Regions from separate parts of the Homo sapiens genome. Here all the other regions are linked to region 1. Evidence: fine-mapped expression QTL. A gene starts in region 1. Each other region holds a variant in brackets. All regions are shown on one strand. Distances are from middle to middle. Region 1 holds the start of SLC18B1 (solute carrier family 18 member B1). Region 2 holds the start of VNN2 (vanin 2). Region 3 overlaps STX7 (syntaxin 7).

The links.
Region 2: its variant is fine-mapped to the expression of SLC18B1 in fibroblasts (GTEx, PIP above 0.99).
Region 3: its variant is fine-mapped to the expression of SLC18B1 in T cells (TOPMed, PIP 0.98).

What each region holds. Positions count from the first base shown.
Region 1 is chr6:132,793,975-132,804,349 of GRCh38, forward strand. It overlaps SLC18B1 (solute carrier family 18 member B1), which reads right to left and starts at 4,663. Exons shown (of 14, transcript NM_052831.3): 1 at 4,440-4,663; 2 at 3,008-3,147. The coding sequence starts at 4,482. RefSeq lists an enhancer at 2,949-3,449 and a silencer at 4,681-4,730.
Region 2 is chr6:132,756,696-132,767,070 of GRCh38, forward strand. It overlaps VNN2 (vanin 2), which reads right to left and starts at 1,209. Exons shown (of 7, transcript NM_004665.6): 1 at 976-1,209; 2 at 721-851. The coding sequence starts at 1,188. It also overlaps the pseudogene RBM11P1. RefSeq lists enhancers at 3,556-3,745, 6,675-6,774. The variant G/C (reference allele first, on the strand shown) is at 5,957.
Region 3 is chr6:132,473,446-132,483,820 of GRCh38, forward strand. It overlaps STX7 (syntaxin 7), which reads right to left. Exons shown (of 10, transcript NM_003569.3): 3 at 2,148-2,217. Among named protein-coding and RNA genes, the nearest start is that of STX7, 34 kb to the right of the region's middle. The variant G/A (reference allele first, on the strand shown) is at 5,020.

The sequences.
Region 1 (10,375 bases):
CTTAGAGGAAACTAACATTAGTTGCACTCACTGAGTTCCAGCTGAGCTAGGAAATGCCCTTCTCACTGGTTGATTCACTCACTCCAATTCTTCTCCATCTCAATTCCACAGGCTCTTATTATTTTTTTTTTAATTTTTTTTTTTTTTGAGATGGAGTCTCACTCTGTTGCCCAGGCTAGAGTGCAGTGGGGCGATCTCGGCTCACTGCAACCTCCACCTCCTGGGTTCAAGCAATTCTCCTGTCTCAGCCTCCTGAGTAGCTGGGACTACAGTCACGTGCCACCATGCCTGGCTAATTTTTGTATTTTTAGTACAGACAGGGTTTCACCATGTTGGCCAGGCTGGTCTCAAACTCCTGACCTCAGGTGATCCTCCCACCTCAGCCTCCCAAAGTGCTGGGATTACAGGCGTGAGCCACCATGCCTGGCATTATTATTGTTATTATTATTATTTAAAAATCCCAAGTCTGGCCAGACTGCTCTTTCTTGCTCAAACACCTCTGATGACTGCCCACTGACTAAGTCCTTGACAAGTGCCCTTCCTTTCTATCTTAGGCCTGCCTCCTCAGATCCACTGTCTCCTATTAGACCTCACTTCACCCCAGGCTCAAGCCACATCAAGAAGCTGTCTGTTGTTCCCCAGGAACATGCCATTCACTCTGCTCTTCCTGTGACTATACCTAGAACACCTCCATCTCTGTTGTTCACCATAAGAATTAACACTTCTTAGGGCCCACCTTAGGCCAGGTGCGGTGGCTCACACCTGTAATCCCAGCATTTGAGAGGCCTGGCCAACATGGTGGACGGATTGCTTGAGCTCAGGAGCTCAACATCAGCCTGGGCAACATGGTGAAACCCCATCTCTACTAAAAATAGAAAAAAATAGCTAGGCGTGGTGGCACATGCCTGTGCCCCAGCTCCTCAGGGGGCTGAGGCGAAAGGATCTCTTGAGCCTGGGAAGTTGAGGCAGCAGTGAACTCTGATCATGCCACTGTACTTTCAGCCTCGATGACAGAGTGAAACCCTGTCTCAAAAAAAAAGCCCCAACTTAGATTTAGCCTGAAAGTTCCTTTCAGTAACGCCCTTTCTTCTGCTATCCACACTCCATGTATGGCAGAATTAACCATTCTTCTTTCTAGGCTCTCATAACATTAGTATGGATAGAGGGAAGCCAGAAGAAAATGATTTAAAAAAAGAAAAAAAAAAACAGTCTTATAACATTCTGGACATCCTTTTCTTAAGGGATATCCAAATTATTGGAACCTTTTTTTTCCCATATTTTTTCACTCCCAAAGGGCAGACAAGAGAAAGCCATTTCCCTGATTTTTTTATACTACCCTAACACATCCCATGCTTAGCCTGCTCTAGAGAAGGGACTCATTAAACCTCTAGTTAATAGAACTGAATTGGGCAAGTCACAACTTCTGAGACCGTTTCTTCATTTGCAACATGCTGAGATTCTCAAGATTCTGTATGAGGTTGTTGCGGGGATTAAATGGATAAATAAGGGGTAATGTGTACTAGAAGCCAGAGAGCACTGTATGGGTACATGGCAATATTGTTCCTTTAGCAGAGAAGCCACTTTATCTTCTTTTGTAACACACAGAACGAAGGACTACATGTTTAAAAGGCAGTTGGAGGACTAACAAGCTTCCACTGCACTGTGAGCCAAGGATTTGGCAAAAAGCACAAAATAAAACACATGGATATGTTGTCTACACTCCAAGCCAGTCATATTCATTTCATACTATATCCTATTGACGTCTAGAATCCAGTTGGACTTTCTAGGGATTATTATCTTTGAATCTGTGTCATTAGCTATAAATCTTAACACCATATAAAAGGCTATGCCTAGAAGGAATAGGCCCTATTAATCAGAATTCCTCCCTTGCATAAACATTGGCGCTAGAGTCCATAAGAAATTAAAGTCAAAAGAGGGAATATGGAGCGGGGCCGGGGCTGGGCGTGGTGGCTCACGCCTGTTATCCCAGCACTTTGGGAGGCCAAGGTAAGCAGATCACCTGAGGTCAGGAGATCGAAGCCAGACTGCCCAACATGGCAAAAACCTGTCTCTACTAAAAATACAAAAATTCGGCCGGGCACGGTGACTCACGCCTGTAATCCCAGCACTTCGGGAGGCGGAGGCGGGCAGATCATGAGGTCAGGAGATGGAGACCATCCTGGCTAACACGGTGAAACCCCGTCTCTACTAAAACAATACAAAAAAAAAAATTAGCTGGGCGTAGTGGCGGGTACCTGTAGTCCCAGCTACTTGGGAGGCTGAGGCAGGAGAATGGCGTGAACTCAGGAGGCGGAGCTTGCAGTGAGCCGAGATCGCGCCACTGCACTCCAGCCTGGGCGAGAGTGCGAGACTCCATCTCAAAAAAAAAAAAAAAAAAAAAATTACCCGGACGTGGTGGTAGGCGCCTGTAATCCCAGCTACTCGGGAGGCTGAGGCAGGAGAATCAATTGAACCCGGGAGGCAGAGGTTGCAGTGAGCCAAGATCACAACATTGCACTCCAGCCTGGGCAACAAGAGCGAAACCCTGTCTCGAAAGGAAAAAAAAAAAAAAAAAAAAAAGGAAGGGGGGTCGGGAATCAAAACGTCCTAATTCTAAAATGTGAATAAAACCTCGAGAAAATAGTTACTGTCTTAACACAGACCTATTGCAGTAACATTTGAATCTCAGTTATTCAGTGCACTCCTTTGTTTCAGTTGCAGAAACCAAATAAAGATTAATCAGACTACATGGTAAGAAAAGTAATTCTCAGAAGATCAACTACTTTTAGGTGAATTACCTCCCAAGAAGATGTTCTTTTTGACTGGATTTTTTTTCCTGGTATCAGGCATTCTATAAGAAGTATTCTATTGGCTGGAGTTCTATACACCATCTGTCCTATATGCAGATTTTTACATTTTATATACTATAAAATAAAATAATTCAAAAGGCTTTTAAAAAACAAACAAACAAAAAAACAGAGGTCCTAAGGATTTAAAAATGTCTTACCTCTTTGGGGAAAAACGGTCCAAGTATAGAATAGCACATCATGGAACCTAAGTTCACCGAAGCTGCCGATATCAGTACAAAAACCTGTTCTCTCGAAAGCCACCCGGGGGTCTCTCCTGCACTTCCTGCAGGATCATCACCTTGAATGCAAACATGCAGCAATTAGGCATATAATTGAGACTACTGATTAAAGTACACAAATGTGATTTCTGTGCACATATGTTGCACTCTGAAGATATCATTTGCTAAGCTTAGGGCTATTTTGAATATAGCACATTTGATCAAATGGAACACAATCCTTGTACATTACTGCCGTTTTGAAAACGTACTGCTTTCGGCTGGGCACGGTGGCTCACGCCTGTAATCCCAGAACTTTGGGAGGCCGAGGCAGGCGGATCACGAGGTCAGGAGATCGAGACCATCCTGGCTAACACGGTGAAACCCCGTCTCTACTAAAAATACAAAAAATTAGCCGGGCGTGGTGGCGGGCCCCTGTATCCCAGCTACTCGGGAGGCTGAGGCAGGAGAATGGCGTGAACCCGGGAGGCGGAGCTTGCAGTGAGCCAAGATCGCACCACTGCACTCCAGCCTGGGCTACAGAGAGAGACTCCGTCTCAAAAAAGCAAAACAAAACAAACAAACAAAAACAAAAACAAAAACAAAAAACAAAGATTTCTAAGGCAGTATTGAAGTCAAATGAAGTGTAAGTAGGAGAAAACAAGCTAAATCATTCAGCTGGTGAATTAATATTTACAGCGGTATGCTTCTGGATAGACAAGTCCCACAAATTCATAAATAAATACTTTTTTTTTACCCTAATTACTGGTCTTTTACATCAGTTAATTTAACACTTATTTCCAGGGCTAAATTGTCATTTAAAAACACGAAATCAATTACTGAGTTCCAAATATCCAAGCAAATCCATCAGCCATTTATAAATTAAATTGTTTTTAGGAAAAACTTAAGAGAAATACATTTGCTTTGCTCTATTTGTCAGAGGTTGCCATTGCAGTCCAGAAGGAAAAAAAAAATCAGTGCAACATGAGGAAGTCTTACGAATCTTTGTAAAATGTTTGTAGTAGATGAGAAAGGGAAATGAAAGTTAAAAAGAAAGGCAACAACAATGGGTACTTGAAAGGTAACGTTTTACATTTGCCTAATGGCATACTTATTTGAATGCATTAAACACACAGTACTTAAAAAGCAGAGGTATAGGTTAGAAAGTCATTAGAAACCGTGACACATATCCAATCCTGGAACTTTACCCCGTCCAGAGAGAAAAGAAACGCTGGCCCGAACCCCACGATCAGGCCCCAGCCTTTTCCAATCTCTCGGAAACAGATCAAGCTATAAGCAATTCAATCGTTGCTAAAGAGACACGCCGGAAGCCGCCGCTGGTCTCCGGGCTCCCGGCCACGCAATTCATGGTCACCTCCTGGTGCGCGTGGTCCCTCCAGGTCACCCAGCGCCTCCATCCCCGGTGCGTGGACTCCGGCGCCCCAGCTCCCGGCTTCAAGCCACGTCCTTGGACTCGACCTCCAAGGAGCCACTGGCACTCTGGCGGGCGGCCGCTGCTCAGCTGGAACCTGGCATCCCCGACTCCCTGCAGGCAGCGATCCGCCCGGCCCGGAGCTCCCCAAAGCCTTCCAGGACTCTGGGTCCCCGGGAGGAGGCCGGGGGCGGGGCAGGGGTGGAGCAAGGCTCCTTTTTTTTTTGTTTTGCGCCCCCCCCCCGCCTCATTATCTTAATCCACCACCTCAGCTGCTATATCATGGTGTCCTTTTTCATTCTGTGACAGAGAGTGAAAAAAGATGAGTCTATATTCCATACAGCTGTACCCCCCTCAATCTTAAAATAAGTTCAATTTATTCCTACGAAACGAAAGAAAGGAAGCTTATGTAGACACAGAAAAGGCAGGGAGTACCTCAACTGAAAGACACAAAAGTGAATTAGAAAATTAGGTTATACAGGAACTTTGAAAGAGTGAATTATTTTTCACAGTGGGTAAATGCGGTAGTGTTCGTAATTACTGAAGCCAGACACTATTGAACCGGAAATGAATTAACCTATGTGAAGCACCTGGAGTCGAAAAATATTTGCAAGAATACTAATGAATATCGAGGAAGCATGGCGAAGTGGCTAGGAGTGCGACCTCTGGAGGCAGGTGCCAGGGATTCAAGCCAGGGCACTTGCTGGCAGTGTGTAACTTTGGATGACAAGGTCAGTTTCTCTACCTGTACAACTGAGATTATAATGTTTATCTCGTAGGGCGGCTGTGAGCATTGGCGATAAAGTGTGTTAGTAGTTAGCACATGAACATGATGGCTGCTACCTTACTCTCACACTCACAGTTTTCTTGCATAAAAAATAGGTTTCACTTATTTTCACCGTATTTACTATTTGGGAAGTGTTAAAGCTCGAGGACTGGCTGGACACGGTGGCTCATGCCTGTAATCCCAGCAGTTTGGGAGGCCGAGGTGGGCAGCTCACCTGAGGTCAGGAGTTCTAGACCAGCCCGGCCAACATGGTGAAACCCTGTCTCTACTATAAAAATACAAAAAAATCAGCCAGGCGTGGTGGCAGGCACCTGTAATCCCAGCTACTAGGGAGGCTGAGGCAGGAGAATCGTTTGAACCTGGGAGGCGGAGGTTACAGTGAGCCAAGATCCAAAAGAATTGTGTGAGGGTAGCTTTATCGACTGAGAATCTGCCTCAGATCCACTGTACAAGGTCAGTTCCAGTACACAGTATGGCTGATAGTAAGTTTGTAATTACTGTGCCACCTCATTCCAGCCTGGGTGAAAAAGCGAAACTCTGTCTCAAATAAATAAATAAAGTTTAAGGACTGGGAAATTCTTGTTTTGAAGCCAAAGCAAAACAAAAGACTGAGTTACCACTTTGTGCCAGGCATTATGAATTTAAAGAGGAATGAGCCCCATCCAGACTCTGCCCTCAAGTAGCACACCTTCTAGCAGATGAAATTCACACTAATTAATAATCTACTATAATGCAATCGGTTGTATACAAACATATTGGAAGAACCATTTACTTTGGCAAATGGGTCCTGGATGACTTCCTGAGGAAGTGATGTTACCTTGGTTCTTGAAGGTTATGTAAAAACTCCCCAGTGAGGGCCGGGCGCGGTGGCTCACGCCTGTAATCCCAGCACTTTGGGAGGCCGAGGTGGGCGGGTCACGAGGTCAGAAGTTCGAGACCTGCCTGACCAACACGGTGAAACCCCGTCTCTACAAAAATACAAAAATTAGCTGGGCATGATGGCACCCAGCTACTCAGGAGACTGAGGCAGGAGAATCGCTTGAACCTGGGACTCGGAGGTTGCAGTGAGCAGAGATCATGCCATTGCACTCCAGCCTGGGCAACCGAGCGAGACTCCATCTCAAAAAAAAAAAAAAAAAAATTCCCCAGTGGGCAAGTTGTAAAGGAGAACCTAGAGAACCACTCTGAACAGAAAGTTCCACTCTAAGCCAGGTGCTGTGGCTCACGCCTGTAATCCTAGCACTTTGGGAGGCCGAGGCAGGCAAATCACCTGAGGTCGAGAGTTTGAGACCAGGCTGACCAACATGGAGAAACCCTGTCTCTACTAAAAATACAAAATTAGCTGGGCATGGTGGCGCATGCCTGTAGTCCCAGCTACTCGGGAAGCTGAGGCAGGAGAATCGCTTGAACCTAGGAGGCAGAGGTTGTGGTGAGCCAAGACAGCACCATTGTGCTCCAGCCTGGGCAACAAGAGTGAAACTCCATCTCAAAAAAAAAAAAAAAAAAAAAAAAAGAAAAGAAAAGAAAGTTCCAATCTAGCAAAGTTTCCCTAAAGTAGCCTTATGAAATCTTTATGATCTAACCCCTGACAGCTTCTCCAATCTCATTTAACTCTATGCTTTCTCTTCAATCTAACATCAATCTGTAGAGGGAAATTTTCTTGAATGATTTCTTTGATGATTACATTTCCTCTTTTATTTTCTTTCTGGACTGCACTTTATGTGAATGTTGGGTCACCCAAACTGGTCCTTTTACTTATTTCTCTTTTTCTTCTCTCTTTTATTTTATTTTATTTTTTTTAGACAGGGTCTCACTCTGTTTCCCAAGCTACCATGACATATAATGGCTCACTGCAACCTCAAATTCCTGAGCTCAACTGATCCTCCCACCTCAGCCTCCCGAGTAGGTGGGACTATAGGCCTGTGCCACCACACCTGGCTAGTTATTATTTTTTCTTTTTTTTTCCTCCATGTTATAGGAAGTATCCCTAACTGTATCTTGCCATCTGAATTTTTGCCAACTGAATCTTGCCAACTGTATCTTGCCAATTGAATGTTTCATTTCTGTTGCCATCTATTTCCTTGTATCTCCATTCTCATTCCTCTCCCCATTTGCAATAATTCTTGCATGTTTAATGCAAATCTTGTTCTTTATGTTCTCAAAAAAATCTATGTTCTTATGTGTCCATCTACTTTTAATTTACATAAAGTCTATTCATATCCCTATCCTCCGCTCCTCTTGTAATCTCTACCTCTCATTCTCCCTTCAGATAATCAGTTTTATAATCAAATATATTATTGTGTTAGTTTTCTGGGGCTGCTGTACAAATCAACACAAATTTGATAGCTTAAAACAAGGTCCTCAAAGCCAGAAGTTCAACATCAGTTTCACTGAGCCAAAATCAAGGTGTCAGCAGGATCATGTTCCCTCTAGAAGCTCTAGGGAAGAGTCTGTTTCTTGCCCCTTGAAGCTTCTAGTGACTATTGGCATTTTGTGCCACATCACTGTAGTCTCTGTTTCTGTGATCACTGTGCCTCTTCTTTTCTGTGTGTAATCTTCGTTTGCCAGTCTCTTGTAAGGATATTTTGAATGAATTTAGGGCCCACCTGGATAATCCAGGATGACCTCTTCATCTCAAGTTCTCCAATTTAGTCACATCTGCACAGACCCTTTTTTTCATATAAGGTAACATTTACAGGTTCCAGGGATTAGGATGTGGACGTATCTTTGGAATCCATTATCAGCCTACCACAATTATCTATTCATAGTTTGATATGCTCATTTAGACATTCATACACATATGGAATATTTGTTTCTTTACAAACTAAAATGGAGTAATATGGTCTTTGTTTAAATGCCACCTCCTCAGAGAAATTCATTCTTTTTTATTATTTATTTATTTAATAATAGAGATGAGGTTTCACCATGTTGCCCAGGCTGGTGTCAATCTCCTGGACTCAAGCAATCCATCTGCCCTGGTTCCCCAAAGTGCTGGGATTACTGCCGTAAGCCACCATACCTGGCCAAGAAATTCATTCATTTTTTTTTTTTTTTTTTTTTTTGAGATGGAGTTTCACTCTTGTTGCCCAGGCTGGAGCACAATAGTGCTATCTTGGCTCACCACAACCTCCACCTCCTAGGTTCAAGCGATTCTCTTGCCTCAGCTTCCTGAGTAGCTGGGACTACAGGCATGCGCCACCATGCCCAGTTAATTTTGTATTTTTAGTAGAGACAGGGTTTCTCCATGTTGGTCAGCCTGGTCTCAAACTCTCAACCTCAGGTGATCCTCCCGCCTCGGCCTCCCAAAGTGCTGGGATTACAGGCGTGATCCACCGCGCCCGGCTAAGAAGTTCATTCTTATGCCCTTATCCAAATACAGCCCTAGTCCTCCTTTGTCCTTTCACCTTTCTATTTTTCTTCCTGGCATTTCTATCAGTCAGAGTTCCCTGTTGCTAATAAAAAACAAAGCAACGTTGGCTAATTTAAGCAGAAAATGAATTCATCATTGATTATTAGGTAACACATAGTATCATCAGGAGGATCATGCATACCACTTAGAGGCTAAGTGCCTAAAGTCACACCACCTAAGCGGTCCAGTATGCATGGCACTGCAACCCTGCTGGACGTACATCTCCAGCACATGCTGCCAATACCACTGGAGCCAGGTATGAGACACTGTAATTAGAACATCATCCCCACTCCTCAAGAATGCTGCCACTCTCACCAGAAGAGATTTTAGGTGGTGCTAGCTTCTTCCACTCACTTGCTTCCATTGCATATCAAGACCCAATGTGTTTGAAGTCAGGCAGTAAAAAGTGTCCAAGTACGTTCTTCTTTTTCAAGAGTGGTTTGAATATTTTAGTTACTTTGACTTTCTAGAGAAATATCACAATTAGCTCTCATATTCTCCAAACAACCTGGTGGAATTCTTACTGGTATTTTTTTTACTCCATATATCAATTTGGAGAGAACTGATATTGAATCACTATTAAGCTTTTAATCCATGAACATAGTATATCTCTCCAATTATATAGATATTTCTTTCATAACATTTTCACATTTTTCACCGTGTAGGTATTATATGCCTCATGTTAAATTTATTCCTAAATACCTTAGTTTTAGAAGCTACTAAAATTGATATTTTTATGTTTAAATTTCCAACAATTTGCTGATTATATATAAAGGTAAATGAACTTTTATATTAATCTGGTATCCTGCAATCTTGCTAAATTTCCTCATTAGTTCTAGTCATTGTTGTATAGATTCCTTTAGATTTTCTACATAAACAATTATGCCATCTGCGAATAGAGTTTTACTTCTTCCTTTCTGAAATGTATGCTTTTGTTTCTTTCACTTATTTTATTGCACTGACTAGGACGCCCAGTAAAATGGTGAATAAATGTGGTGAGAATGGAGAGCCTCACTTTGTTCCCAATCTTACAAGAAAAACACTTGGTCTTCCATTATAAAGTATGAGGTTAGCTGTAGGTTTTTCACATGTGCCTTTCAGAAGATTAAGGATGCTACCTTCTATTCCCAATGTGCTGAGAAATTTTAAAATGAATTTGTGTTAAATTTTATCAAATAGTACTTCTGCGTCTATTGTACATGGTTTTTTCTTTATTCTGTTAATTTAATAAATTACACTGATCAGTGGTCTAATGCTAATTGTCTAATGTTAACTTTGGATTCTTGAGATAAATCTTGCTTGGTCAAGATGTATTCTCTTTTCTTATATATTGCTGGATCAATTTGCTAATATTTTGTTAGAGGTTTTTTTTGTCTATGTTTATGAGTAATGTTGATCTGTAATTTCTTTTTATTTTCTTTTGTCAGGCTTTGGTAGTAAGTAATTCTGCACTCATAAAACAAGTCGAAAACTTCCCCTCCTCTGGTATTAACATGTATTAATTTGAGAAGATACTCTACTTACATATAAGGTAAGTATTGATGGGGTTGGGTTTACGTCTACCATTTTACTATTTGTTTTATATCTTCCCATCTGTTTTTTACTCATTTGTTTCTTCTTCTTCTTCTTTTTTTTTTTTTTTTACCTTATTTTGGCTTAATTAGAAAAAAAGAGATTTTGGAA
Region 2 (10,375 bases), 37 kb before region 1:
TAAACACTAGAATTTCCTAGTGCTCAAGCCTTATACCTAAACTCTTCTCTAACTCACTCCACAGGTGAACTCATCATGGTGTTTAACACCATCTATATGCTGACATTTGATTTTCTATCTCCAGATATAATTTTGTCTTTTCATGCCAGACTTGTCCATGCAACTGCCACGTTGACACCTCCAGGATGACAGTAGGACCCAGATTTTTAATATATATTAGAAGGTTTCTAGATAACCTTTTCCCAGGAAAATTAGATTTGTGAGCCTAGGAAAATGCAGTTTCAAAGCATAAGGTCTTATGATTCACTTGAAAATACATGGTGAAGTCTTTCTGCCTAAGAAGCAACTCTGGAATGGAGAGACTCTATAACATTGAAAGGGTGTCCCTTCAGCAGAGGCTTTGGAATGTATTCCTAACACAATCCACTGTCTACTTCAGAAATTAAGTTACTACTTGTATCTATGAGATCTCTTCCCTTAGTTTTTCTTGCAGGAATACCCTATTTACACATTTTCTCAAAATTTAATAAAGATTTTCAATCACAAAAGATTGTTAAATAGTATCTAAGTACAATTTTTTAAAATCTGACAAATGTTGAGATAAATATAACCATAACATATACCACATATATGGTAATTCAAGAGCAATCATTTTGCTTTGGTGAACGTGCGCATTTTAGAGAGTTACTTTTGCACAAAAGACTAAGATAGTTAAAATACCTGTGGGGGTCTTGACACGGAATCCAGTTCACCTGAGGGTCTGGGATATCCTCCAGATAAGGGAAAACAGTTTCCCTGGTAAATTTCCATCCATAAAGTGCATCTTCTGGAGTCACAATGATTCGAGCACCCTGTTCAAAACAAGCAAAATAAAAATGATTTTTCCATGTACAACACAGACAATTCAGCTCTCTCGTCTTCCACCAGCTCCCATGCCCCTCGTGTACATTATGATTAACAGAAATAAGAGAATACCTGCTCAGCTGCCTGCTTGATCGCTGTCTCCAGAATGTCTATATTCTCGTTCATGAGATTCAAGGCATCCTCCTGAGAAACTGGTGTTTCTGTTTTATTTGGCAAAATGACAGCATGTTCATACACTGCAGCTATAAAACTGTCCTGAGTACCAACCTGCAGGGTTATTAGGGCAAAAACTGCCACAGAGATTGGAAAAGAGGAAGTGACCATGGCCAAGGTTTAGTGATTTCTGAAAGCAAAAATAACATTCATGTAGTATTTACAGAGGGGAGAATGTTTGCATAACATGTGGCTGCCAGTTACTGGCCTTTTACTTTATCATCATTTTTCTTCTTCTTCTTCTTCTTCTTCTTCTTCTTCTTCTTCTTTTTTTTTTTTTTTTTTTTTTTTGAGGCGGAGTTTGCTCTGTCACCCAGGCTGGAATGCAGTGGCGCAAGCTCAGCTCACTACAACTTCCACCTCCCAGGTTCAAGCGATTGTCCTTCTTCAGTCTCTGAAACAGCTAGGACTACAGGTGCGCGCCACCACGTCCAGCTAATTTTTGTATTTTTAGTAGAGATGGGGTTTCACAATATTGGCCAGGCTGGTCTCAAACTCCTGATCTTGTGATCCATCCACCTCAGCCTCTCAAAGTGCTGGGATTACAGGCGTGAGCCACTGCACTTGGCCTACTTTATAATCTTAAGAACGCAATATATCTGACCACTTTTAAAGAAAGAAAAGTTGCAGTCCATTTAAGACAATCAGAAAGTATTACAGGGATTGAACAGCATGTACTATTAGTACTAAGATTTAATATTGAATTTCCAAAAGACACCCGAATTCAAATATAGAACAATTCCAGCTTTTGTTAATAGAAACTCATAACTAACTCTCGTGTAAAAAAATCACATCCCAACAAATATCTCATTTATTAAATTTAAAAATTGACAACAATTTTTTTGGTTCTGTTGAGTCACTTACATTGTGTTTATTTTTAGACGGGGGGGAAAATATTAAATACTTACTACTAAGAAAATGTAACACAGGACAATATTGATAACAAAATTTACCCAAATCTACACTCTGACTTACTTATTGCTATTAAGGACTGAAAACATGTGCTCCAGAAAAGCAGGATTTTGTGTCTGGTTTGTTCACTGCTGTATAGTTAGTGCCTACAGCAACAATACCCCGAGGCACCTAGGCCAGAGGAGGAATCTCAGCTCAGGGGCCCCAGGCCTCAGGATACTCCGCTTCTTTCCTTCTTTCTCTCTTTCACCCTTCCCTCCCCATCCTCCCCCTACTTCTCCTTCTCCTCCTACTCCTTCTCCTCCTTCTTTTTCCTCCCTCCCCACCCCCTGCTTTGGAGGAAGATGCCAGGGAAGGGGAAGAGTCCAGGATTGGTGATAAAGATCATCTGTGTTGTAATAAGGAGAAGATGTAACTTACATTTTTGTTAGCAGCAAATAACAACAATGAGTTTAAAAACAATGCTAACAGGCCAGGTGCAGTGGCTCATGCCTGTAATCCTAGCACTTTGGGAGGCCGAGGCAGGCAGATCACCTGAGGTCAGGAGTTCAAGACCAGCCTGGCCAACATAGTGGAACCCCCCATCTCTACCAAAAACACAAAAAGTAGCTGGTCGTGGTGGTGGGCGCCTGTAATCCCAGCTACTCGGGAGGCTGAGGCAGGAGAATCGCTGGAACCCAGGAGGCAGAGGCTGCAGTGAGCTGAGATCACACCATTGCGCTCCAGGCTGGGCGACAGAGCGAAACTCCGTCTCAAAAAAAAAAAAAAAAAAAAAAACAATAATAACAACAAATACAGGATGTGATCTCAGATGCCTTCTTAGGACATTCATATTCTCCCTTCCCCAGGCCCAATCCTGCCAAATAAAGGATTTGTTTTATTTTTATCCAGCCCTTTGGTAAAAGTCACGGAAATGCTTTTAGACAGCATAGAAGAGTAGGTACGATTAAACAAAGTTTATTCTGTGCTTTCCTTCTTACTGAGATAAATGTTTTGTTAAGAATGGGGCCTAGGGGCTATAAATAAGATCTGCTCATATTTTCTGCTTTGAATAGAAGTTTCTATTAAAGGAATAACTTTTCTTATCTCTATAGAGCAGAAAACTAAAAATAATTCAGGAAAAATGGTCAAGCCCTTTTGTGGAAAATGTAAAGGGATAGATATTTTTATGAATTTTTAGCAGATTGTATAATAGACTGTTAGTATATAACCATACTATCTAGTGTATAATTAGTAAATTAGCATAGGTGATTGGTATATAATAGATTATGAGTGCTGTTAGAGTTTAGAAATCATGTAACCCAAATGCCCACTTATTACAGGATAGGAATCTGAGGCATAGAGAGCTAGAGCGACAGAGCAGGATGTTCGCTTCTCATTCCTGATTCCAGAGTCTTTCCTTTATACCTAAAACAGCACATGTGTCTGTGCTCTCTTTTAATGTCTGCAACTGAGTGTCTGAACACTCGTGTCTTTTGGGGTTTTTTTGTTTTTTGTTTTTTTGTTTTGAGACAGAGTCTTGCTCTATTGCTCAGGCTGGAGTGCAGTGGTATGATCATGGCTCACTTCAGCCTCCACCTCCCAGGCTCAAGTGATCCTTCCACCTCAGCCTCGCTAGTAGCTGGAACACCAGGTACGCACCAACATGTCAGGCTAATTTTTGTTATTTTTTGTAGAGAGGAAGTTTCACCATGTTGCCCAGGCTTGTTTCAAACTCCCGAGCTCAAGCAATCCACCCACCTTGGCTTCTGAAAGTGCTGAGATTATAGGTGTCAGTCACTGCAGCCAGTCATTCATGTCTTTTAAAGAACCCAATTCAAAATGATCACCTTAAGAAGACCATAGGCAAATTTGCTAAGTGCTAATGAAATTTCTGATGCAGTTGATGCCTAATAAAAACAATTAAGCTCTTCCATCTCCATAAGTACAATTTGGGCCATGACCTACCTTCATTGATCTAGTATCACCAATTAGTAATACTTAATTAACTCTTTTGCTTTTAAGTAGTCAGGTAAGCTGATGAGGAGGAGTTAACAGTTTTATAATTTTGGCAGTAGAAGTGGGGACAATCATATCTGTTATTGTGTTCCCAAATCTGGATGTTTTTCTCTGTCCTTGGCTGTAAAAGATAGAAATGATGTTGATCAGAGTTTTGGATTTTTTGTTTGGCTAACAGGGAAAGGGAAAATCACTTCTGATATAAAATCAAGATGACTAAATTCCCTCCTTTGTTTTTTTATTTGAAGCATCTAAAAATTGTCTCATTGAAACTGAGAATTTGAGTAACAAAGGTAATTGCAAAAAAGAATTAGAAGTTAGTAAATGAAGGAGCAATTTAAATATAGGAAAATCCCTGAGATGTGAAGAAAATATTTGCTGTAGAGGTCATTGATATTGTTTTAAATCTTCAGAAGTAAAAAACCAAATTCAGGACATACAGTTTCAATAGTTGACTTTTCATAAAGATGATTGATCAGGTAAAGATTAAAATTTTTAGTTTAACTGAATTATAAAATAAAGTAAGGTTATTTTGCCACAGGGAACATTGATTAATTGTAATTCGTTGCTAAAAGAGCCTACTTCCTAATTTGCCATTTTGGGATTAATGAACTTAGCTAAAGGGGTAAAAAGTTAAAATCAATTAAAAATTATTTGGTCAAAGAGTCACCATAAAAAAAAAAAAAACAGTATTGGGGTGGGCGCAGTGACTCATGGTTGTAATCCCTGCACTTTGGGAGGCCGAGGCGGGCGAATTATTTGAGGTCAGGAGTTCGAGCCCAGCCTGGCCGACATAGTGAAAGCCAGTCTCTACTAAAAATACAAAAACTAGCTGGGCATGGTGGCAGACGCCTGTAATCCCAGCTACTCAGGAGGCTGAGGCGGGAGAATTGCTTGAACCCAGGAGGAGGAGGTTGCAGTGAGCCGAGATAGCACCATTGCACTCCAGCCTGCGTGACAGAGTGAGACTCTGTCTCAAAAATAAAAAACAAGCAAATAAACGAAAAACAGTAATAGCTCAAATATTTGTTTCTAATTGTGAATCTGATCATCTGTTAGAATAATGTTCAATTGGACTAGGTTTTAGGTCTTTAATTTTAAAAACCTCATTTTTTTCCCACTTTCTCAAGAGTAAGCATAGGGGTGTAGTTTCTGCTTTGCACCACTTCTTTGGACCTCTATTTCTCATCTAAAAGTTTAGGTAATCATACCTGCTCTATCTCCTAAAGATATGTGAAAGTCCTCTGTAAGACTACAACGCAGATGACAATAATTAACAAAAGTGAGTGACTATTTAGTAATATAATATCCTGACTGCTTAATATTATTTCATTGTTAGGCCCACAGAACTACTGTTGTTCAATTCAAATTCTAGTCTATTTGGATGACCGTGCTGAAGAACTGCTGGAATGAAATGGGGTTGACAGGGTACCTGGGCATCAACTCCTGATTCGTGCTAAACCCAGCGTGGTAGAAAAACTGCAGTGGGGTAGCAAAGGTGAAACAAGAAAACCAAGGAACTCAACCCCAGGAAGGAGAGGAGCTGCTCCAGGCTCTGACACTGGCTACTGGACTTCCTGTTCTGTCCCTTCTCCTGAATGCAAAATGACAAGTGAACTGAGAAACAAAGAATGGGAAATATCATGTATTATTATCAATGACATTCTCACAGGCAGCAAGGGTGACACGTCAAAATAAGAATAAGAAGCAACAATAGGCAGAAAAGCCAGGCTCCAGTGTTAAAACTGTTCCTCTTAATACTGTATACCAAAAAAGTACAATACTGTATCCAAAAAAAGTACTTAATGGCAAAGAAAAACGTTTCTGTCTCTACACCATTGGAGTATTACATATGGCTTTAGTGAGACTGAGTCAGGCCCTGTAAAAGGCAAGGTTGCCTTGAAAAGAACCAGCTTGAACTTTAACCATCTTTTGGGGCCAGGTCTCATTCAGATGAGGTAATCTTCCA[G/C]CTTTAGAGTTGGATGGGTGTTCAATGCTTCAGATAGCTAATGAACACAGCTGAAACCAGAGCAAATCTGAGAAGGTAATGATATATCACAGCCTTGGATTCTCTGAAAGCACTGCTAGATGGAAATGCTTGTGCAACATGAAATTGCCAATCATCACTGTTTTTGACCTAGCAAAAGTAATTTCACATGGTTCAACCAACATGTCTGTTTTCCTGTCTCAGAAACTTAGGGTTGAAGTTGCAGAAGTCCCTTTGAGTTAGTAGCATCCTCCCCTACTTTCCGACAGCTCCTGCTTCCTTAAAATAAAATATTAACAATATTAATCTCATAGGTCCACCCACTATGCCAGTCTATTAACCCTGCCAAAAGTTTCTTGCATTCACCAGCCGGTCCTTTTAAAAAATTAAAAATTCTCTTGACTGAATTAAAAGCTTTTGGTAAAGTCGGGATGACTGTCACCACAGAAATAAATCCACAGGAACTGGATCCAAGTCACTCGTTGATTTATGTAGGCAGTTGGAGAGACATGCGTTTGAAAGGGTATGGTAAGAAAATATCATGGAAATCGCAGACTTAAAAAAAAAAAAGATAGATTAAAAATAGAAAAGTTTATGTCTTATTGATCAATATGAGAATGTCACAGCAATCCACCAATAATGCCACTTGTTTATTTTCAGTGAGCAAGGAAGCAAAGAAAAAATAATGTTTGCAGCCCAAGGTAACTACTTACAGCTTTAGTCAAGGGGGAGCCTTCCACTCCTCTGGATCTCAGCTGCTTTCCTTTCCAAGGCCTGTGCTCCTCCAGTCACCCCTGGTGACTTCCTGTTTTGATTTCACTTTCTGGGTGGGCCGTACCCTTTGAGATGACAGACAGGAGTCCCAGCAGCTGCTGGTTCAAGGATGCTGCATCTTCAGTCAGACACCAGGAGAAAGAGTGTCTATTTTATTCTAGCCTGGCAATTCTGATTCCTGAGCTTTTCTTTCAAGGAGTTGTATGGGCCAGATGACACAGGCGAGGAGCATTGACACAATTTCTACTGAACCAAGCTCAGCAGAGGAACCACAGCAATAGAATCAGGAGATTCTCTAGCCTACAAAGCCTAAGTCGACTCTCATATTCATGTCATAGTCTTTCTCTTTAGCACATTATTCTTTTACTGTAAGACAGATCCCACTCCAGACTGTCCTTCAAATTAGAGAGAACTAAATTGTGTATGGTCCTGCATCTAGTTATGGAGAGCTTTTTTCTCACTGTAAGTTATAAGGGTCATGGTGGTATCTAATAATAATTAACATGGACATGGACTCTGGGGCCAGAATGCCTGGGATTGAGCCACTTCCTAGCTATGTGACTATGAGCAAGTTTTGTGCCCTCTCTGTGCCTCAGTTTCCTCTATCTGCACAATGGTGATACGTGCTGAATAATTTTTGCTATTATTACTATTGCTTCATTCCTACAAGATGGAGGCCCTATTACAAGAGCCATGCCCAAGGCAGCTTTTACCCAGGGTTTGGTGACATAACCACCTGTCCTTGGTTACTGTCTTGTTAAAAGAATGTCAATGTGTCTACTTCTTTATGTTTGCATTGTTCTGTCTGTCTCCACAAAGTCTTTCAAGTTTCCTTTCTTCCAGGTCAACCTGATCTGAATGGTTTCTCCTAAAATTATGAACTTAAATTCTGTTTCTACTTGCTAATCTTGATGGCATTCCCTCCATTTGTACCACAGATTCTCTTTCTGATAAAAAGCTTTCACTCCACCTATTTCATGCACCATTCTATTTTTTAAAAAACATGCTAAACAACCTGCTGTGTAACTGGATTACTCACACATTGCTGTTGGGAATGTAGGATGGTACAGCCACTCTAGAAAACAGCTTGGCAGCTCTCTGAAAAGTGAATCATGGCTCTACTCCTTTCCCTCTCTGGGTGGCAGCCAGGCATGGAGGCAGGGCAGGATCATAGCACCTCCTTTACCCTGCTTATCCTTCCTCTGGGGAAGGCTGACAGGACAGGAATTTAGAGGCTCCAGTAGGGGAAGAAATTCTTTATGAGCTGTTTCTTCAGTTTCTTGTAGGCTAAAACATTAACCACAGTGACTACATGCAAAAACAGAAAAATGGAAGTCTGGCATTTGTCTGCATTTTTTAAACACCTTAAAATGTGAGTCGTATGCCATAGTTCTACTGAATGGAGTTTGTTTATATGGAAAGATCAATTCATGCACAATATCAATTGGAAATTCTCACTCTTCTGAATCATCTCACCAAAGTTTTCAGTGCTGTGTTATGATAAATTCCTACAGCTATATGAATGAAGAAGCTGTGGGCAGATCTTAAGATAAATTAAGATAATTTAAGATGTTAAAGATAAATTTAATAAATTTATTATTAAGACAAATTCTTAATTCTCACAGCTATATGAATGAAGAATCTGTGGGCAGATCCTCCTTTCCCATGCAGTTCTTTCCAATTAATAATGTTGCTTTACTGCAATAATACTGTTTTTCCAGAAGATGCAGTAGCAAGCATACGATCCAATGCCATAGCTGTCTTACTGCATGAGATGATTGCCTACTTCCTAATTCACATCCCTGTCTCCCTCACTAAATCGTGTTCCAGAACTACAGGCTGGACCCAGCTTACTAACAACCAAGACACGAACCACCAAGCCATTCGCATTTTTATCAGATAACTAAAACGAAAGAGACAAAAGCCGACCAATAAACATGGTGATAGAACAGAAAACAATAGAAGAAATAATCATAGCCAAAAGTTCTGAAAATATAGGGAGAAGAAAAGGTATTAGTACTATTCTCAGATGAAAGATTTATCTACACTGGCTTTAATTCTCTTAAAAGAAAAAAAAACCTACCTGTATTTATGCAATAACTGATTTCATGGCTGTCATTTTTGAAATATACAATAATGTTACTTGATTGATTCGGTATTCAATTTTTGTCTTGACTGACAAAAACAAATGATATAATATACTGCTTTTTGTGTCTGGCATGCTATTGTTGACCTATCATCAACATGAAATACACTCTGAATTGTTTTAGTACTGATGATAAAATTGCACTGAGCTACAAGTCAAAATTTGTTATGACATCATGCTTTCCTAGGTGGTCCCTTGTAATACTCAACTATAAGTAAGCTGGGATTAGAAGTCCAGCTGTAGGTTTTCTGAAAGAAACTACTGCAAATATTTAGGAGTTGCAAGCTGCTCTTAATGAAGATTGGCTATGCAGAATTTAGTTTCCTTTGTTAATACTTTAAATAACATTTTAGCTTCTCCATGTAAATATGTTGTGTCTGAGCCTCCCCTCCTGTGGGTTTGTTTCATAAAACGGGGTCATGTGACAGTGACACCAAAGAAATGGTGAGTATCATGGGACTACCCTGTGGGTAATTTCCTTCTGATATGAATGTGTAGAGATACTTCTCAATTATTAATTGCACTTAATGAAAGTTGATTGGCTATATAAGAATTTATTATCCACATCTTTTCCAGCTAGGTTAGAGAGGGTATCTGTGACGTATTTAAATCTTGATCATTAAACAAATAAGTAAATAGGATATTTCTTATTTATTTATTTATTTATTTATTTATTTATTTTGAGACAGAGTCTTGCTCTGTCACCCAGGCTGGAGTGTAGTGGCGTGATCTCAACTCACTGGAACCTCCGTCTCCCAGGTTCAAGCGATTCTCCTGCCTCAGCCTCCTGAGTAGCTGGCATTACCATGCCCGGCTAATTTTTGTATTTTTTTGTAGAGATGGAGTTTCACCATGTTTGCCAGGCTGGTCCTGAACTCCTGACTTCAGGTGATCCGCCCACCTCGGCCTCCCAAAGTGCTGGGATTATAGGCATGAGCCACCATGGCTGACCAGATATTTCATTAATGCGTGATATTTAATATTTATTGTCAAAATCAAGTTTCTTATCTAAAATAAATGAGTTAGTTGAAAACAAACTAATCATGCAATTATCACGCAACTCAGCAGTTGTATTGCTGGGCATTTATTCCAGAGAAGTGAAGTCTTATGCTTCATATCCCACCCTCTACCCTCGCCCCTGGCAAAAACAAACAAACAAACAAACAAAAAACCTGTTTCTGAAAGTTCATAGCTGCTTTATTTGTAACAAATAAAGTAGTATTCCATTGTGTCTTAAAGCCACCCAATGGAATACTACTCAGCAATTTAAAGAACTGAACTATTGATACATGCAACAATGCCAATAGAACTCAAGGGCATTATGCTGACTGAAAAAAGCCAATCCAAAAAGTTTCATACAATACGATTTCATTTATACGTTTCTTGAAATGACCAGATGATAGAAATGGAGAAGAGATTAGTGGCTGCCAGAAGTGAAGATGGGAGGGAAGTGGGTGTAGCTACAAAAAGACAACGTGAAG
Region 3 (10,375 bases), 320 kb before region 1:
CAATACAATAATGTAAATGCTATGTAAATAGTTGCTATATTTTATAGTTCAGTTTTTTTTTTTATTATTGTGTTGTTTTTTTTTTTTTCTTGAATATTTTTGACCTGCAGTTGGTTGAATCTGGGGATATATAATCTATGGATACAGAGTGCTGACTACATATCCATATTTTATCTAGCTATCTTATAAATTGAAAAGATTTCCAACTTAAAAACATGACACTAAAAAAAAGCTCATATTAATTGTGATGTTTTACAAATCACAACATCAGTACCTCTTATATATTTCATCTCATTTTAAATATGGTCTGGTCACACTTGGGGTCCTTTAAAATAATGAGATATTGTATAAGAATATGCTTAAGAATAGGGATCTGTATTTGACTGACAAAGGGTAATTAAAATCTATTTCTATCTCTATTTACCAAATACCCTATCTTTAATGCATTTTTGTAAATCTCTGGAAATCATAATATAGTCAAAGTTTTAAAAAGAAGACCTTAGGCTGGACATGGTGGCTCATGCCTGTAATCACAGCACTCTGGGAGGGTGAGGTGGGTGGACTGTCTGAGCCCAGAATTGAAGACCAGTGCCGGCAACATGGCAAAACACCATCTCTACAAAAAATACAAAAATTAGCCAGGCATGGTGGATGTGCCTGTATTCCCAGCTACACAGTAGGCTGAGGTGGGAGAATCGATTGAGCCTAGGAGGTCCAGGCTGCAGTGAACCGTGATAATGTCACTGCACTCCAGCCTGGGTGACAGCATGAGATCCTGTCTCAAAAAAAAAAAAAAAAAAAAAAAATCCTTAGTGACTACGGATATATATTCAGAATCTTCATTATTAACTCTATCAAAATATTAGAACTTTTATGAATTATGTACTTCTATTCCATTTTACTTTAGTTTAATGAATTGTGGTTTATTATTTAGATTTGGAGCATTTTTACCATTCTGACACTTACCCACTGTGGAAAAATAAAATATAAATTAGAGATAATTGTAAGTCCTTCAAATTGTACTTCCTAAAAATATGAATTCCTATTACCTATCTTTTAATATCGTCCTCTTTGCAGTTTTCCCTCTATAGTTAATGTTGTTTAGAAGTATTGCTTACTAGATATATGTGACTTGAAATTTACAGCTGTAACAGTACTGAAATAAAATTTAAGAGTTAAGTTCTAAATGACATTGGGTAACTCGTTAAACCCGTAAGAGACATGAACAAAATGGAAACAGTTCTTTTGGTCTATTTCTCTTACTCTAATTCTGTAAGGTTTAAATGATAAAATATGTAAAAATACTCTGTAAAATCCACAACATACCACAGACAAAATATTATCACTATGACTGCTGGTCTTCTAACAGCATATTAATTTACTGGAATATGTACTATATAATTCATTATAACTTTTTTTTAAACGGAAGCTAATGCTCTCTGAAATTCAAGGATGTAGGTATAAACTTGTGGGGAGACAGCTCACGTAGCTGGTTATGTATTGGATCTAAACCAAATAAAACTCTGGTGACTGCGGGGATTTTTAGCTATGGAAAGTAAATCACATAAATTGAGATACTAGAGTATAATTTTTCAACAGCTGTCAAAAACAACCTACCTAAAAACTGTAAGAAATGCAACTAAAGAAATTCTGCTTTGATAGGGTAAGCCTATCAAGGAATTTTTTTTTTTTTTTTAAGACAGAGTCTTGCTCAGTCGCCCAGGCTGAAGTGCAGTGGTGTGATCTCGGCTCACTGCAACCTCCGCCACCCGGGTTCAAGAGATTCACCTGCCTCAGGCTCCTGAGTAGCTAGGACTACAGAAGCTCGCCACCACGCCTGGCTAATTTTTTTATTTTCAGTAGAGACGGGGTTTCACCATATTGGCCAGGTTGGTCTCGAACTCCTGAACTTGTGATCTGCCCACCTCAGTCTTCCAGATCTTTAATATAAAAACACCTGCCTACTCCAGACAGGGAAAAATCTACACAAAAGCTTGGTACAAATGTATGGATAAGGTAGCAGAAAAACTCCATTGTTTTTCCATTTTTTCTTCCAGTAAACATAATATACTACATACTGTAAAAGCAACAGAATAATAGCAATAGAGTTTTTTCTTTCTCTTTTATTTATTTAACTAGATACTTACAACTGTTGCCTCAATTCAGGTGAATCTTGAGGTGTTCCAAGTTGATTCAGAGTTCTTTGTATTTCCACAGCTATTATAATAGAAAATTCATGTATTAATTGTCACAAAAGTTAAGGTAACAGAAAGAGTTAAAAATTAATATGTACAAGCAATTGGGCAGTTGAAAAGAGACAGAAAAACAAAGATGAAAATAGAAAATATTAACTGGAAAAAAGAATAACTAAATGGTTTACTTAAATCTAATTAGTAACAAAAATTTTCAAGAGGAAATTGTGTGAGAATGTTAACTTGTGAAAATGCACTTATGACCCAAAAATACTATCTTCTTCCTTATCCCATCAGGATATTATTAAGTAAATACAAGGGCACACAGACTTTAACACTACTAGCATAAAAATTGTGAGGAAATAAGTAACAATTACATATTTCATTAGAATATAATATAAATAAGTTATTGTTAATAAATGAGAGGAATAGAATTACAAAAAATCATTTTTCAATTATCCATGTAATAACTGATTTCAGCAAGGTCATCAAAAAATGCTAAAATCACAGGACATTCATACAACTTAAATTACCACCACACAGATGACATTAATTACAAAAGATATAACTTTATCATATATAAATCTGTTGTCTGAAAACAAATGACCAAATTTAGCAGTGAGAATGGAAAAAACTGACATTATGAACCTTGTGGCATGCTGCAGCGAGAAAGCCACAATATGATCTGAGGATTTTTCTTGCCAAAATATTTAACATGAATCTAATCACAAAAAGAAATTAGACCAGTCTAGACTGTGGGACAATCTACGAGATAACTTGCCTGGGCATTTAAAGACGTCAATGTCACAAAAGGGAAAAAAAAAGTTGACAAAGACAGAGGTGCTTTCTAAATTAAGGAATTAAAATACCCAAAAGACACTGTATGATTTTTGACTGGATTCTGAATCAGGAAAAAAGCAAGCACTATAAAGAAAATCATAGGGACAACTGGAGAAATTTGAATACAGAAAGTAAAAAACACATTAAACAAAAGTTGAAAAATGCCCACAACTGGCAAATCCAGGTGAAAGGTTCATTGTACTATATACTTATATATATATTTTGTGAGGTTTAGAAAAGATTTTAAAATAAAAAGTCCAGGGCTTAAAAGTCATGTTAAACTCACAATCCGGAAGTCTATGACTATTGCAATTTTTTTAAAAAAGGCTCTACACAAAAGGGGAGGACCTACAGTTTTATGTATGTGGGGACATAAATAAAATGTCATGGTACATAAATAAAACGTCAAGTAGAAATAAGCTGAAAATCCAAAGAACTCTTAACAATCTAACCCCCTCATTCTTTTTATTTAAATGAGTGGTTTACTTATATAGCTTAAATGCTTTAAAACTATTCATTATTTACATGCTCAAGGGAATGATAAAGTATTACAAAATGCAGGATAATTTTGGTCACCGCGAATGATGTAATAAATACTGCTTTTAAGTGAAAGCTGAAAAACAGAAACACTAGAGAAGAATCAAAGCATATAGCAACTCTTAGCATTTGGCTAATTTAATAGGAATTTATTTTTGCTTTTTGGGGGTTGATTTTTCCTTTCATAAGACAAACAAATTTTGTTTGCCGTGTTTAACTTATGGCTGCTTATAATTAGCTATATATTCCCTCTCAACCTCAACAGATTTTCTTGAACTGCCTTATAGGGGCTTTATTTTCTTAAGCGTATTGATAATACAAACTGTAGTATGGGCATCGATAGACTATTGGCAGGTATTTATCTCAACTCTAAAGTGTTATTGTTCTTTAGGAAAAAATCATAGCAAGTGAGAAAAAATAAATTATTTAATAAATGACACCAGGAAAACTGACTAACCATTTGGGCAGGGGAGAAAGAACCCTACCTCCCAGCATATAGCAAAATACATTTTTAATAAACCATTAATTTAAATAGTAAAATTGAAAATATTAAACTGCTCTAAGAAATATAAATGTTTTTATTATATGATCTTATACATGATCTTGGAGTAAGAGATATAAAATATTAGCTAAGCATGACACAAAACTAAAATCCACAGAGGAAAATATTGACAAATTTGACTACATAAAATAACTTGGTTAAATGTTATACAAAAAATGTGTACATATATCACAAGTATATATGTAAGTGTGTGTTCATATACACACAGGAGACAGTAACTGCAGGTTATGATGAGGAAAGAGGTTAAACTACAATGGTAATTATTTTTGGTAACAGAACAACAGCCCAGTAAAAAATGGACAAAGGTTATAATCTTGCAATTTACAAAAGGCAAATGTGTACATAACAAAACTTCAACTTCACTGATAATTAAACTTTTATGTTTCTGATTGGTAAAAATTATGAAAAGCAGTTGAGAATATAATTACAATCAAAGGCCTTAAAAACAAAAGGTAAAGACTACATAATATATAAGAAAGAGGGAGCAATAGTCAATAACTATAAATAATTTAGAAAATGTCAGACAATCCAGTAGAAAAATGGGCCAAGACACGTGTATATCTATATAACAAACATGCACGTTCTGTACATGTATCCCAGAACTTAAAGTATAATAAAAAAAAAGAAAAATGGGCCAAGAATAGGAACTTTAATATTCATGAATAAACTGAATAGCAAAAAAAGGACCGAAATGCATATCAATTTTGCAAAGTACAAACAAGTACACCACATGAATGCTATATAAAATTACTCAGCCAATTAAAGAATTGAGTAGAAATGGATTCTGACAGGCCCAATGGGAGCCTAGTTCCACCATGTGGTAATTTCCGGTTTCTGAACAGATATACTGAGCAACCCCCAGTTCTCACTCATACTCCCTGAGTAAGG[G/A]CTCTTATGGAAGGAAGAAATCATTGGAAGCCCCTGGGGACCCACTCTAATAAAAAAATAAAACCAAGGGCATTATCTATTCCCTGGGAATTACTCAGAAATGCCACCATCAAGGACAGAAAGAGCAGGGAGTGGACATGCCTCTCATTCCCATTTAACCGGCCTATCTGGAGAATGCAGAAGGCTAATGCTCATGATAACTAGCAAAAGCTTATTCAGGTGGTGACTCCAACTGCACTGTTCCTCAAAATGTGATGGATTTACTACAACAGAGCATCACAATCTCTAGCAACCTGTATATACCTGCTTATATGGCAAATACTTTTTGCTCTACCCTAAAGGACAGAGAACATGAGAAAGGATTTGCTATCAATGGGATGGGACATCAGCGAGCCTTCACAGGCTTATCTCACGGTTATGCACACTGTCTATCTTTGTACTACAATTTCGTTGTCAAGGATACGGATCATCTCCTCCTACAGGACACTACATTAGTCCAATACACTGGTTACGTCTGCTTTTAGGACCAGAAAAGCAGGAGGCAACATGTACTCTTAGATGCCTGCAAAGCATAAGTAAGCCAGCAGGTAGAAAATAAATCCATGAAAATACAGGGCAGTGTTTCCTCAGTGAAAAATCTTGGTGAATTAATCTGTAGATAACTGGCATACTTCTGCAAAGTGCTTTTCTTTGTAGCCTCAAGTACAAATGAGAAACAGACTTTTTATGCTGCTTCCACCCTTTACTGAATGACCCAAAGGTTACCAGCTTTAGCTTCAACTCCCAAAAAGAAAAGACCATCCAGCGAGTTCAAGTGGTGGTATAAGCAGATCTACAACTTGGCTTTAATGACCCAGCTGATGCAATGGTACATCAAGCCTGTGCAATTTCAGGGCACCGAAGAAAACTAGTAGCAAATCCCAATAGGAAAAACACAGGGGTCCCTTAGAATGTTGGAGCAAAACCTTCCTTTTGAGACTTGTTCTGGCCTTGCTACTGAGCCCTGGATAGAATAAACAATGGTACAAGGTAACCAAGTGACTCTAGCTGTTCACCATGAATTGTATCTTGTTGGTACAGCCTTTCTACATTTTGCTCTACGTATGTCAGTCAGCCTATCCCTCACCCCAACTCCTGAAGCACTTGTTCAGTGAAATAATAAACTAGCAATGGCTGTCAGAACAAAAGCCACATATAGACTCAACAATATGGATTTCCTCTTACTCAGACTGACATGACCATGGGTATTGCCGTACACCAATTTGCAGCAATAGCAATCTCATGTTATACTCTATTAAATCATTTTTGTTTGATTTTTTGTATTAATTTTTTCATTCATCCTTTGGACTTCCCAGATGCACATCCATACGCTCTACAGAGATGATTTTACCCATTTTATTTTCTATGGCTAATTATCTTTACAAACACTTTCAATAACGTGCTAATTTAAAAATAAAAAGTAAACTAGTGATGTGCCGTTGTTGAGGGTTGACCCAACTAGCTGCTCCTTCCATCTTGGAGGAGGCAGAATTTTATATTCACTTCAATGGTATTACTCTGGGTTCTGTTATGCATCCTCTAAGCACCCACTGTGCCCCCTGTGGCCCGTCCCCACTCCCCCGACCCCATGCTTCTACCAGACTCCTAATCCACCTATTAGTCACAATCAAGGTGTTCCACACACCGATGCTTCTGCTCAAGAAATTACAGAGAAAAAAAATTAACGGTGTTCCAAGGACAATGGGATTCACTGCTCTGCCATGTATTCTGTTATCTAGAAGCTGCTGGACTTCTAGAATGTTTACGGCCTACTGAGACTCAATCCTGGCACCACCTGGGAGACAAGCATCTTGGGAAACTGAAGGATCCTTATGGTCTCAAAGAACCACCACTCCATGGTGCTGTTTCACCTACAGCCAGAAAGAAACTTGGATTTGGGAAGTAACAGGTCGAAGTAAAGTCCAATATTTCACGATTACACCTAATTATCCATTTGTACAATTTTTTCCATCTCTCAAGGTGACTTAGAGACAACATCCAAGGGAGGAAAACAATCACGTTTTCAAGACTACAACTGGTCATTTAGGGCCAAGGTAGTATGTTGATTGAGGTAATTATTAAGCGGAATTTGGGGTACGCTCATACACAAGTAAAAGGGAGATGAACTGGAGGGGGCCTGATAATACTGCCATCTTCACTCATAAAAGTGAGTACCACATAGCCTGTGAGCAGGAGCAACAAGGACCCAGGGCTGAAAATCTGGGTTATCCCAAACAGCAGAGGTGCTGAAAGAAGGCAAGAGGAAAGTGGAATGGTTATTATAACAGGAAAATAGTAATACAAACTGCAGCCTGTGATCAGTTGTAGAGTGGTAACTTAGCACCTGCCAGTATTCTTTTTCTTGCTCTGCAATGTATATATTTAGATATATTAACTGTTCGTCTCCTTCCCTATTTCCTCCACTGTTATATATAGAATGTACCATTTGTGGTTACTCTGAGACACTGTTCCACAGGCTAAGGAATACTGCTGTTCAGTTTTGCTGAAAGAGGAGGAGCACACAGGAAATCACCCCCTAAATTTGGCATTGGCTACAGGAACTGAATAGACCTCAGTTTTATCCCTTCTGTGGAAATGGGAAAGGAGTTCTCGTTGCATGAGGGATAGCAGCAGTGTGTCACGCAGGAGCTTTTGTTTTTAAGCTTAGGTATGAAAAAAGGAGGCGTGTTCACTGTAGAAAACAAAAGGGATAAATTATAGTGAAATTTATTTTGGGCCACCTAATACCCAAAACTACTATTAGATTGGGATCTTTTTGGTTATAATATGACCACTGAGAAGTAGCACCACAGAGCCAATCTTTGGAGGGGGAAAAAAACTGGTTGCTAAAGCAACAAAACTGTTTTAAGATTCTTTGAACATTGCTTACCTTCATTATCATACAGGTGATTAATAATGAAAGTATTAGTCACTATCACTAACAATCTAGTTATAATCAAAAGCTACATTTACTCTGTGCTTTTGGTTTTGTAGATTTAGGTTTTATAGATACTGAAATTTCTTAAAAATCAAAGGCTCTGGCTAACAACCTCCTTGTCACTCTGAAACAATTTTTTAAGATAATACAATGTCTCATAAAATGAAGCCTCTCAGAAAACAACCATTATGTTATTGCCTAATAGAATGCATTTAACTAATGAGAGCTTCTCATGAACAGAAATGGAAGACAAGGCCCCCTACACTTATGCAGCATACAAACTAGAAAAGGACAAAAAAACCCCAAAAGTACAAACACCATATAAACTCAAAGAGGGTGCAGCAGCAACAAATGCTATAACAATGTTTCAAACAATGACCTATAATATGTGTGTTCTATTGGAGGACAATCCAAAAAGCTGTAATGAAGGTGGCATTTGTAATGGTTTGAAGGGTAAGAAATAGGACATTTCAGTTTGGAGATTCAAACCTCTAATATCATACTCAGACCTACACTGAAATGATCAGAATACCTATTAGTCACCCTAACTAGAAGGCAAATTTCTTGAAGGCAAGGCCTAAGTTTTATTCATTTTGGTTTTTCCAGAATTTATCATATTGTTGACCCTCAATGAATAGTTTTATGAGTGAACCATAAAAAGAATACTGGGAAGATCAAAACGTACGTAAGAAATAATATATATTTCTAAAACATACAGCATAAATAAATGGAGAGTTAAGAAAGGTAGTTATGCCCATTTATTATTCATTCATTGATTCACTCGACAAACATTTACTGGGCATCTGCTACGTACCAGGCACAGCGAGAGGGCTTCTGAACGTGAACATTAATTTGGTTGCATTCCTTTAAATTGAGCAGGTCTACACTTGAGGATCAATTAAAGGCATCATCTGATCAGGTGATAAAGGGCTTATAGGAACATAAATCTGAAACTACTAAATCAAATTTGGAAAAAATATTATACGGTATTAGTTCAATCCTATTTTATAAACAAAGAAGTTGAGAACCAGACAGAATAACTTGTTCCAAAAACTATAGCTATTTAGTACAAGAGCTAGGGTTAGAATGTAGATTTCTTGGTTTTCAAAAAACTTTTTTCAATGTGCTAAAAGGACTGAAAGTAAAAGATGTTAAAACACATTATTTCATAATCCAGGTGTGTGACAGTTGACAAAGCAAACAAAGAAAAAATAAGTGTGTCTAGATTGAAGAAGTAATTTGAAGGAGTTGAATTGAGATGTTAGATGTTTCCAGCAGTGCTCAAAGTAAGTTTAGGTCTGGCAGTGGATCACAAGGATCCTTCTTCCCAGCTGAAAGTGATCAAGGAAGAAACGCCTGCTCTTTCTCTGGGTTTTATGAACTGCCAAGATTCCACAGACTTGATTTTATATACTACTAGCATTAGCCTCCTACACCAGGGTCAACAAATTATGGCCCGTAGAGCCTGAAACCTGGTTTTGTACAGACTTCCAAGCTAAGAACTGTTGCTACAGTTTTAAAGGGTTAACAAAAAAGAAAAAAAAAAAGAAAATGAAAGAAAGTCTAAAAGAATCTGCCCTTTACAGGGAAAGTTGGCCAGTCTTTGTCCTCAGTTATTAAAAATTACTAAAACCTTGTATTTAAAAACTCAACTTGGCATGTTATTTGAATGTACTGTCATCCTTCACTATCCCTAGAGGATTGGTTCCATGCCTCCCTCCATCCACCTCCCAAAGACAACAAAATCTGCAGATGCTCAAGTTTCTAATATAAAATGGCATAGTATTTGCATATAACCTATGCACATCCTCCTGGAAATCACCTCTACACAACTTACAATACCTAATATATAATAAATGCTATGTAAATTGTTATAGTGTACTGTGTTTTATTTTTAAAATTTTTCTGAATATTTTTGTTCCATGGTTAGTTGAATCCATGCAGAATCCATGGAAAAGGAGGGCCTACTGCAGTCACTGCATTAAGTCTATCTAGTAAAATATTTAACAATGTCACAAAATTTCCATTGAACATGCATGTACACTGAGTTGAAGTTCTTTGATTCTCAGAATATGCTATTCACCCATCATAGGTGCTGGCTTGAGTACCTCATTTTCATCTGCTGCTCTTATACTAATTTAGAAACAAAACACTTTTTCATTGTTTTGGATGAGCATTTTTATAGCATATTTGCTGCAAAAATATTGTTAGCACTCTATCATGTTATTACTCTCTGGTTTTTGGCCATCTCCTAAGTTCTTCCCCTTCTAGAAGGTATGGATAGTAGGATATGTGGTTCACAGGATCTTCTGCGACACCCCAATTGACCATGTTCAAAAATGCTTGAGAAAAATAAGCTTAGAGAAAGGGAGATAAGAG